Linked DNA regions of Homo sapiens: region 2 is reported to be linked to region 1. Evidence: microRNA targets listed by miRTarBase, many of them from high-throughput screens and not tested one by one. Region 1 holds a microRNA gene; the other region holds the end of a gene's coding sequence.
The links. Region 1 holds the annotated microRNA hsa-miR-4769-3p (UCUGCCAUCCUCCCUCCCCUAC, at 1,922-1,943, shown strand). A microRNA usually pairs through its seed, bases 2 to 8, with sites in the 3' UTR of a target mRNA and lowers its output. Matches are read on the target gene's strand: a 7mer-m8 pairs with bases 2 to 8, a 7mer-A1 pairs with bases 2 to 7 and ends in A, and an 8mer does both.

Region 1 (5,070 bases):
ATGGACTCTTGCACATCACTACCTGCAGTTTTGTGGCTCCCTGGAACAGCCTGAGCTTAGCTCAGCGCCGGGGCTTCACCAAGACCTACACTGTTGGCTGTGAGGAATGCACAGTGAGTGCCTGGACCCTGACCTCCAACGGGAGATCCTTCCCGGGGCCATTCCCTAAATCGTGGGCTTGTTTCTTGCTCCCTCTGGCTATTCTGTGTCCCTGTGGCTGCTCCCCAACCCTAAGGGCTGTCCCTGATCTCTCTTGCTATTTCCCCAAGCCCGAGACTGCTCCCTTACAAATTCTGGCTGCTCCCTTTCCCTGTGTCCAATACCGTGTGATCACCTGTCCCTCCCTGGTCCCTCTAATTCTCCCTTGTGACTATTCTGTAATCCCACTCCCCGTTCCTGAGCCCCCGGGATTGTTTCTTGGTTCCCCAGAATGTTCTCCAAGAACCCAAAGTGCTGTTCCCTAATCCCACTGACCCTTCCTCAGCACATCTGCTTGTTGCTCTGCAGCTCTGACTATTCCAGACACCAGAGGGTGTTACACTGACCTCCTGGCTAGTCCAAGCCTGTTCCCTGATGGCTCCTGATGGCCTCTGAGCCCAGTGACTATCTTGAAGCCCCACTGGCTATTCCTGTGCTTAAACTCCTTAGCCGCCAACCGGGTGGGGCCCCTTACTACTGCCAGTTTTTCCCTGTCCTTTGGGACAATTCCACAGGCGACCTGCCTGACTGACCCCCAGGGCCTATTCCCCAGCCACCATTCCAGGACACTGATTTACTGGCTTACTGTTACCTTTCAGGACCCAGTGACATTTCCCTCAATGGGAGGGGCTGTCCTGGGGTATGTACTTAGGTGGGGTGAGAGCAAGTCTCCCCAGCGGCTCAGTGTTGAAAGCTGAGGAGAGGAAGTTCTGCTCCACGGGGGAGGCAGGGAGAAGCCCTCAGAGATGTTTCCCTCCTCCCTTCCAGGTGTTTCCCTGTTTATCCATCCCCTGCAAACTGCAGAGTGGCACTCATTGCTTGTGGACGGACCAGCTCCTCCAAGGCTCTGAAAAGGGCTTCCAGTCCCGTCACCTTGCCTGCCTGCCTCGGGAGCCAGGGCTGTGCACCTGGCAGTCCCTGCGGTCCCAGATAGCCTGAATCCTGCCCGGAGTGGAAGCTGAAGCCTGCACAGTGTCCACCCTGTTCCCACTCCCATCTTTCTTCCGGACAATGAAATAAAGAGTTACCACCCAGCAGACACTGTTTCTGTGTAGTGCCTGGGAACAAACCCATGTTGCTGATGACCTGGTGTGAGCACCCTGGGACCAGTGGGGATGAGGGATGCCAAATGTTGGGTTTTTATATTTTACTTAAATTCTGATGTACTGGTAGTAATTCTCAACATTGGCATTAGCACTGATGATCTGCAACAGCAGCAATGGTCACTGAACCTGCATTATCAACCGTAACCTCTGAATAATTTCTCCAGCCAATACTTTAAAACATTTTCCTATACTGATTCCTAATTGCTATTTGCCCAGGGCTTTCTAGTTATAAATTATCCCACAGCTGACAAATCACTGCCTTACTGGAAATTCCCCATTCACACATCTTGCCAGCTGACAGAGTCATTGACAAATGCCCTACCAATTGGCAAATGACTATCATTGCCTCAAGCACAGTCCTGATGTTGTCCAGTGAGGATGCCCCATCCAAACACGTGGGTGTTACTGTCCTCATCCTCAGGTTTTGTACCATGAGTCTGACTTGAGTGAAAGGGGACCCAGGGCACCCAGAGTCCCACAGTAACCCAGCTGGGGACTTGGGAAGAAGGGGTGGCCCTGGCTCCCCAGCCATGGCTGCAGGACATTCCTTGGAAGGGACTGTTTGGGGCAGAGGAGAGGTGGGATGGAGAGAAGGTATGAGCTAAAAATCCCCAAGCTCTGCCATCCTCCCTCCCCTACTTCTCCCCTCACTCCTCTGACCAACTTGGAAGGAAATACTGACAGCAATGAAATGCAGGTAGGGTTCAAAATTAAGACCAGCCAGATATGCTGGCCCATACCCTCCACACACCTCCCTCAACCCAACTGTCCCCTCACCCAAACTAGGGTCTCTAGACTCGACCCTCACCTTTATGAATCATCCTTTCTCTAGAAAAACTGAGTGAGAGAACCTCCAAATACTCCCCTCTGAGGCCTTCCTGCTTCCACAGCGGGGTCCAGTCCCTGGCTCCTGCCCCTCATACTCCAAAGGTCTTGACTCAAGTGAGGCCCTTGGGAACTAGAATTTCAGACTGGTGCAAACATTCAATGGAGCACCTGTGTCCTCCTGACCTGAACGTGCTTGAAAAGGGCCCCAATATATCTCCTTTGGTAAAGAAAAGGACCCCCAAATTCCCTCTCATCAGAGTACCCACTGCTCTTACCAGTAAGAACCCAGGTCTCCTCCAGGGCATTCTAGGTCACCAAGCACAGCCCCCTGGATCTTCTGTGGTCCTGTCCCAGAGCCTTTTACACTCCTGGGAGGTTACCCCACGGCCCAAATTATGTCCCGGATGGGAATGGGCAGATTTTGAACACACAGTACTCAGCCACTTAAGCAGGGAATGCGCATGCAGCAACAATTTCTACATCAACATCTACACCTTGGTTACGCCCTCGGAGGGTCTGAACCTTGTCCACCGAAGGGGCCAACCGCAGCCTTTGCTGATGGGCACAACTGTAAGGTAAGGGCCCGAGCCCTGGTTCATCCCTGGTGACCTTGTCAATGTTCCCTCAGCTGCCTGCAAGAGGCTGACCGCTCCTGGCAATTCGCCAAACCTTAGTGTCAGCTACCTGCACTCTTAAGCTGCTCCCTGGCCTCAGGGCCCATTTCCTAAGTCCTCAGCTCTTCCAAGCCCTAGGGGGAAGGTGAAGTAGCAGGGGAAGGATGGAACCCAGCGTGGAGGTCGTTCTCCTGCCGACCTGTCTACCCTGCAGGTCAGCCCTTCGCCAAGTGCAATGCAGAATGGACAGGGAGGACCGGAGACCAGAACAGGTCTCAGGGGACACAGAGCCCAGAACAGCAGACGAGGCTACCTCCACCAGAGACCTGGCATGAGCTCCTGGCAGGATCTGTAACCCTGGGCTCATTACATCCCCCATTGCTCTTGTAGAACATCTGTTAAAATAGGTCAAGTGAGCATCCTCCATCCCCAGCATTCGGGGTGTCTGTGGGTGAATCTCTGGGAGAGACTCTGTGACAGCTGAGAGGAAGCTTGTAGGGGTCACAGCCATGTGGTATTCAGCATGGGACCCAGCTCAGTGGGGAGCCTGGGGGGCCAGTCCTTCTCTCACCTGAGCCTCAGTCCTTCTCGCCATGTTTAAACATGGACGTCACAGTCCTGGCCCAGAATCCTTCAGAGGTCTGTGGTGGGGTTGGAGGATGTTTACGGGGTGTCTTTGCCCCTTGGATATTTTTGGGGGGGTCAAAACACAGGAAATGGGACAGTCATGGTGGCTGACGCCTGTAATACTAGCACTTTGGGAGGCCAAGGTGGGCAGATCACGAGGTCAGGAGTTCAAGACGAGCCTGGCCAACATGGTTTCCATCTCTACTAAATATACAAAATTTAGCCAGCTGTGGTGGCGCATGCCCTGTGGTCCCAGTTACTTGGGAGGCTGAGGCACAAGAATCGTTTGAACCCAGGAGGCGGAAGTTGCAGGGAGCTGAGATCATGCCACTGCACCCCAGGCTGGGGGATAGAGCAAGACTGTCTCAAAAAAAAAAAAAAAAAGGCCGGGCATGGTGGCTTACGCCTGTAATCCCAGCAATTTGGGAGGCCAAGGTGGGCAGATCACGAGGTCAGGAGATCGAGACCATCCTGGCTAACAAGGTGAAACCCTGTCTCTACTAAAAATACCAAAAAAAAAAAAAATTAGCCGAGTATGGTGGTGGGCGCCTGTAGTCCCAGCTACTCGAGAGGCAGGAGAATGGCATGAACCTGGGAGGCGGAGCTTGCAGTGAGCTGAGATCAAGCCACTGCACTCCAGCCTGGGCAACAGAGCCAGACTCCGTCTCAAAAAAAAAAAAAAAAAAAAAGCAGGAACCCTGGAGCCAGATCATCTGCATTCAAATCTTGCCCCTGCCATGTCTTAGCTCTGTGTCCTTGAATAAATCATATTGCCTCTTTGAGCCTCAGTTCCTGCATCTGTAAGACAGGGATAAAAAGAAGGCCTAACTCATAGAGACAATGTCCATATTAAATGAGGTTGTATATGTGAAGTACTTGGAACAGTGCTAGGCATATAGCACTTACAAGCATTAGTTACTAGAAGTAGTTATGATAACTATAACTTATAACTTTAGTAGTGATTATTTATAATATTGCAAACAATGTTTGATATTAGGCATGATAATATACGATATTGGAAATAATGTGTATGATTAGTACCAATAATTTAATGTCCATTTCTCCCCCACACCAGTCTCCTCACCAAAATACAAGCTCCTGACCCTGCTCTGCCTGAAGGAATGGGGTAGGTCTCCGAGACCCAAAAGCTCCTGATGTGATACTAAGATCCCAGCTCTTTACGCCATAAATGTTCCTCAGTCCCAGTGTCCCTCTCTCTTTTCCCCCTCACAGACAATCCAGTTTCCTAGTGGAGTCCTGAACCTGTGGCTCACAGAAGCACCTGAAAATAAAGAGCAATGTGGTTAGATCCTTCTACACGCCCACCCACAACAACTGTGGCGACACCATGAGGAGAGGTTCCCCTTTAGGGATTCCTAACGGCAGGCCAGCCAACCTGTCCCCACCCTGTGTGGACTCCTCACCCTCAGGTCTCCCTCTGCACCACCCTGGAACAAAAAGTCCCCATCCCTGGAGCATTCTCCCCACGAAGAACCCCCGCCTCACAATACTATGTTCCCAACTTCAGCCCGTCACAGCAAATTCTGTCCCCAGTCCGTAGTGTTCTGAGTCTTTGAGACTTGGGGATCATAGCATGTCCTAGCCAAGGGACATATGGTCATGCTACACTGGTCCTTGGGACATGGCCTCTGTCCCTCCAGGTCCTTTGAGGGATAGAAGTCTGCACTCTGCGAGAT
Region 2 (5,070 bases), not on the chromosome of region 1:
TTATCTGTGAAGAGACTCTGGGATCCCATCACCTCAAAGCCAGAGGGTCCCCAAGTCACCGCTGAGAGCACTTGAGCCTCAAGGATGTAAGCCTGACCATAGGATCTTGACTCCAACAGCGGCAACCCCCACCCCCATTGTGGTCCGTCCTTAACCCATCCACTCTTCTTCGGAGGCAACTGAGAACACATAAAGCAAGCAGCTACCTAGCATCCCCCTCCTAAAGCTTTAGACTCAGAGCCCAGGGTCCCCCACAAGCCTCAAGGTAGCCTCAGGTTTCTCTAATTTCCTCCACTCCCAGTTCGAAGCAAACAGCTTACTGCCTAGTCCCCGCCAATCCCAAGGGCGGGCTGGCTGATGGCAGCATGGTGGGCTGGCCTGGGTGTGGAGTGAAAGAGTCACTGTGGTGGGGGCGAGAGGAGGACTTGGGAGCTGGAGGTGTGACACCTTCAGTTCTGTTCCTATTAAAGGACCTTCTGAAGGGCTTCTCTGTCGGTCTTGTATTCGGATTGTCCGCTTTGGGGAGTTGGGGGAGGAGGGGCCTCACCATGGTTTTGCCACCAGCAGTCAGTTGCATCATCTCTTCCTCCAAGCTTCTGTTTCCCCATCATCAGAATGGGGGGTGAGTAGGCCCCACTGTGGTTACGTGTTATGTGGTTCAGCTGTAGGAGAGGGGGGTCAGGGAAGTTTGGCAAAAGCACACTCAACATGCTTTGCATGCTTGTTGAGTGAGAGCCTCTGATTTGCACACCTTTCTGTTCACCCAGTGGGCCCCATGAGATAACTCACAGGCAACTCACAATGTGAACAGAACTCATTCCATTTTCCTCAAAGAAACCTCCATGCTTCTGATGTCATTGGCACCACCACCCAAGCTGGATACCTGGGCAGGTTTAAACCTTCTTCATCCTCATTCTTATGTCCAGTCCCTTATCAGTTTCCCTCAGTTGAGCCAGTTAATATCTTTGGAACTGGAACGTGTTTTCGGCATCACTACACTTGTAGACCAACAGTGGTCTCACACACAGACAACTGCACAGCAGTCCAGTGCCTGCATTTTTTTTTTTTTTTTTTTTTTTTTTTTTTTTTTTTTTTTTTTTTGAGATGGAGTTTTGCTCTTGTTGCCCAGGCTGGAGTCCAATGGCACAATCTCTGCTCACTGCAACCTCTGCCTCCTGGATTCAAGCACTTCTGCCTCAGCCTCCTGAGTAGCTAGGATTACAGGTGGGCGCCATCACGCTCAGTTCATTTTTGTATTTTTAGTAGAGATGGGGTTTCATCATGTTGGCCAGGCTGGTCTCAAATTCCTTACCTCAGGTGATCTACTCGCCTCGGCCTCCCAAAGTGTTGGGATTACAGGCGTGAGCCACTGCACCCGGCCACCTGCCCTCTTCATTCTCCATATGGCATCCATGCAGATCCTTGTCACCAAGACACAGCTCCTTGTGGCTTTGAGACGATTTGGAAATGTGAATGCCTACAGGAGCTGGGTGAAAATGTAAATACACGAGCAAGACGGCCAGGTTCAAGGGGAAAATATCAGCAACATGAAATAATGGCGATTGCCACCAGGTCTCAGAATTGGTATTCAACAAATTGGAGAGTGCCTCTTCAGAAGAGGGTAATGGCTGCTCAGCTCCGGAACACAGATTGGGTTGCCACATCTTCCAGTTTCTTTCAGAAGTTCCATTAGTTCACATTATGTAAAATCTTTTGATTTCCCAATGTTGGCAGTCAAGTCAAACTTTTTAAAAAATGCACAGACTAAACAAAAATGTGTTAGTGGTCATATTCGGCCTTGCAGCTGCCAGTTTCCAGCCTCTAGCCTATAAAATCACCCAAGCCCCACAGTTTGGAATTCAAGACCCTTCAGGGTTTAGCCCCCAGGAACCCAACCTCCAGCCATACTAATCTGTCTTAAATGCTCCAGAATAGCAGGGTTTAGTTCAACACACTAAACTCTCCGCCTGGAAATCTTTGCCACTTCTTTTTTTTTTTTTTTTTCTTATTTATTTATTTTTTTGAGACAGAGCCTTGCTCTGTCGCCCAGGATGGAGTGCAGTGGCATGATCTCGGCTCACTGCAAGCTCCGCCTTCTGGGTTCATGCCATTCTCCTGCCTCAGCCTCCCGTGTAGCTGGGACTACAGGCGCCTGCCACCTGCTCCCACCACCACACCCGGCTGATTTTTTGTATTTTTAGTAGAGACAGGGTTTCACCGTGTTAGCCAGGATGGTCTGGAGCTCCTGACCTCGTGATCCACCTGCCTCGGCCTCCCAAAGTGCTAGGATTACAGGCATGAGCCACCGTGCCCGGCCTCTTTGCCACTTCTTTACCTGGAAAACTCCAGTTGGTTTATGTCATCGTTCAGGGATCACCTTCTCCCCAAGAAGCTTTTCTAGCCCCCCTTCCACTCTGACAGGTGACTCCTCTGTGCTCCCTCAAGCCCTAGTGATACTTCCAAGTCCCTTACACTGTGAGGCTCCATTTCCATGTTACTGCTGAACCCTGAACCCTGGGGGCACTGGCACAACGTCTGTCTCATGCTGGGTCTTCAGCATTAGAACATGGAGCCACACAGGGTAGCTGCTCTCCCATGGGTCACACAGGACTCACCCAAGCAGCGCTCTTACCTAGTTTCATCTTCAAGTTTCTTTTTTTCCTTTTTTTTTTTTTTTTTTTTTTTTGAGATGGAATCTCGCTCTTGTCGCCTAGGCCGGAGTGCAGTGGCGCAATCTCAGCTCACTGCAACCTCCACCTCCTGGGTTCAAGTGATTCTCCTGCCTCAGCCTCCCGAGTAGCTGGGATTACAGGCACCTGCCATCACGCCCAGCTAATTTTTGTACTTTTAGTAGAAAGGATGGTTCACCATGTTGGCCAGACTGGTCTCGAACTCCTGACCTCAGGTGATCTGCTCGCCTTGGGCTCCCAAAGTACTGGGATTACAGGCATGAGCCACTGCACCTGGCCTCATCTTCAAGTTTCTGTACTGAAGTACTCTGGGACTGAAGTCCAAATTATTTATTTGTTGAGATGGAGTCTCACTCTGTCACCCAGGCTGGATGCAGTGGTGCGATCTCAGCTCACTGCAATCTCTGCCTCCTGAGTTCAAGTGATTCTCCTGCCTCAGCCTCCTGAGTAGCTGGGATTACAGATGCCCACCACCATGTCCAGCTAAGTTTTGTATTCTTAGTAGAGATGGGGTTTCACCACTTTGGCCAGGCTGGTCTCAAACGCCTGACCTCAAGTGATCTGCCCGCCTCGGCCTCCCAAAGTGCTGGGATTACAGGCGTGAACCACCATGCCTGGCCTGGAGTCCAAATTCTGTGGATTTTTGAGATGTCCCTGGAGCACCTTTGTTCTTCAGGACCCCAGGCCCTTCTTCTAACAAATGAGATAACTAAACACACATTGCCAGGCATACATCTTGCTGTTCCCAGAGCCAACATGAGAGCTGTGAACGGGCTTTTGAATCTCCCAATCATTACCCTGGAGGACAAGTGCTAAGAGGGAGCTGTATCATGACCATCAGTCTGCACATGGTTGTGAGGCAGCCACGGCAGCCGGATGGGAGTTCTCTTTTGTGTTACTTGAGGCCAAGGGGCACGTCCAATTCATCTGTTTCCCCAGTGCCCAGCTCAGGGCCTGGCAGGCAGGAGGTCTCCGGAAGTGGTGGTGGAGTGAACAAAGGCTGAAAGCATCCGGAAGGGGAAGAGTCGGGGCATGTTAAGTCAGTTCCTGAGAGCAGACACTTACCTGTCTTGTCCATCTCCATTTGCCCAGCTCAGACTAACGCTGGGAATACAGCAAATCCTCAGTAAGTCCCTGTTGAATGAGAGTGAGTGAGAGACAGAGGCGCCCGGCATCAAAACTGCAGAGGAAACAAGTTTTAACTTTGTGCTTTGCCACCATGTGATCCCCACTCTCCCTGGGTGGGATGCAAGGATGGACTCCAGCGGCCCTCATGGTAAGATTTATTATTCTCCGCTCTGTACAAGCCGCGTCTGCCACCCCGCCCCCCACCCCCCCACCCCAAAAAGCACCCAGCACTCCCTTGTGCCCTCCCAACTCTGCTCATACTCCACTGTCCAGCCAGATTCCAAAGGAGGGGGAGGGGCGGTTCAGACCCATCTCCGCCAAAACTTACTGGGGGCAGAGTGCTGCTGGGGCGGGGGCTGATGCGGGTCACAAACGAGGGTTGGACGGAGGATAGGGTTCAGTGTCTGATGGGATGAGGGGAGGGCAGAGAGGTCGAGGATGGGAGTGATTCAGTCTTGAGCCTGTCGGGCGTGCGCCCTGAAGGTCGCCAGTCCGTGTGAAGTTCTGAAGGATGGGGCAACAGCGAGGAGGGGGGAAGAGTCTGATCAGTCCTGGGAGGTGGGAGTCCAGAAGGGGGCTTTTGATGGGAGTGGGATGGGAACCCCTCGGTCAGGCATCCTTCCCGGCCAAGGTGCCCGCCCCTGCTCCAGGCCCCCCGAGGTTCTCGGCCTTGTGCGCCAGGCGGTGTTTCTTGAGGCCGTAGGTGTTGGCGAAGCCCTCGCCGCAGGAGGAGCAGCGGAAGGGCCGGCCGCCCTGGTGGGCAGCCAGGTGCTTACGGAAGTAGCCGGGATCCTTGAAGGCCTTGAGGCAGGCGGGGCAGCGGAGCTCGGGCCGCGGCGGCTCATGGGCGCGCTGGTGGCGCAGCACGGAGCTCAGGTAGAAGAAGCCCTTGCCGCAGTGCTCACAGCGGTAGGCGCGCTCGCCCAGGTGCAGCCGCTGGTGCTCCAGCAGGTTGGAGCGGTAGCGGAAGGTCTTGCCACAGGCGCTGCAGCGCTGGGGCCGGGCCACAGCGTGCAGCCGCCGGTGCTCTGCCAGGCTGGACGACTGCGCGAAGCGCTTGGCGCACACGCCGCACTTGAAGGCCCGCTCGCCAGTGTGCACCACGCGGTGCTGCCGCAGGTACCAGGAGCGCAGGAAGCCTCGGCCGCACACGCCACATCGGTACGGCCGCTGTTCCGTGTGGCAGCGCTGGTGGCGCATCAGCAGGGCCGCCTCCCAGAAGCGCTTCCCGCACACCGGGCAGCGGAAACCC

Region 2: the mRNA of ZNF865 is a reported target of hsa-miR-4769-3p. Seed matches in the 3' UTR shown: 7mer-A1 at 4,003-4,009.

What each region holds. Positions count from the first base shown.
Region 1 is chrX:47,585,555-47,590,624 of GRCh38, forward strand. It overlaps MIR4769 (microRNA 4769), which reads left to right and starts at 1,875; the gene lies at 1,875-1,951. All of the region lies in intron 5 of SYN1 (synapsin I), which reads right to left. It overlaps TIMP1 (TIMP metallopeptidase inhibitor 1), which reads left to right. Exons shown (of 6, transcript NM_003254.3): 5 at 1-113; 6 at 967-1,235. The coding sequence ends at 1,137. RefSeq lists a silencer at 1,736-2,030.
Region 2 is chr19:55,616,156-55,621,225 of GRCh38, reverse strand. ZNF865 (zinc finger protein 865) reads right to left here. Exons shown (of 2, transcript NM_001195605.2): 2 at 3,957-5,070. The coding sequence ends at 4,428. ZNF784 (zinc finger protein 784) reads left to right here. Exons shown (of 2, transcript NM_203374.2): 2 at 1-485. Among named protein-coding and RNA genes, the nearest start is that of ZNF784, 5.9 kb to the left of the region's middle.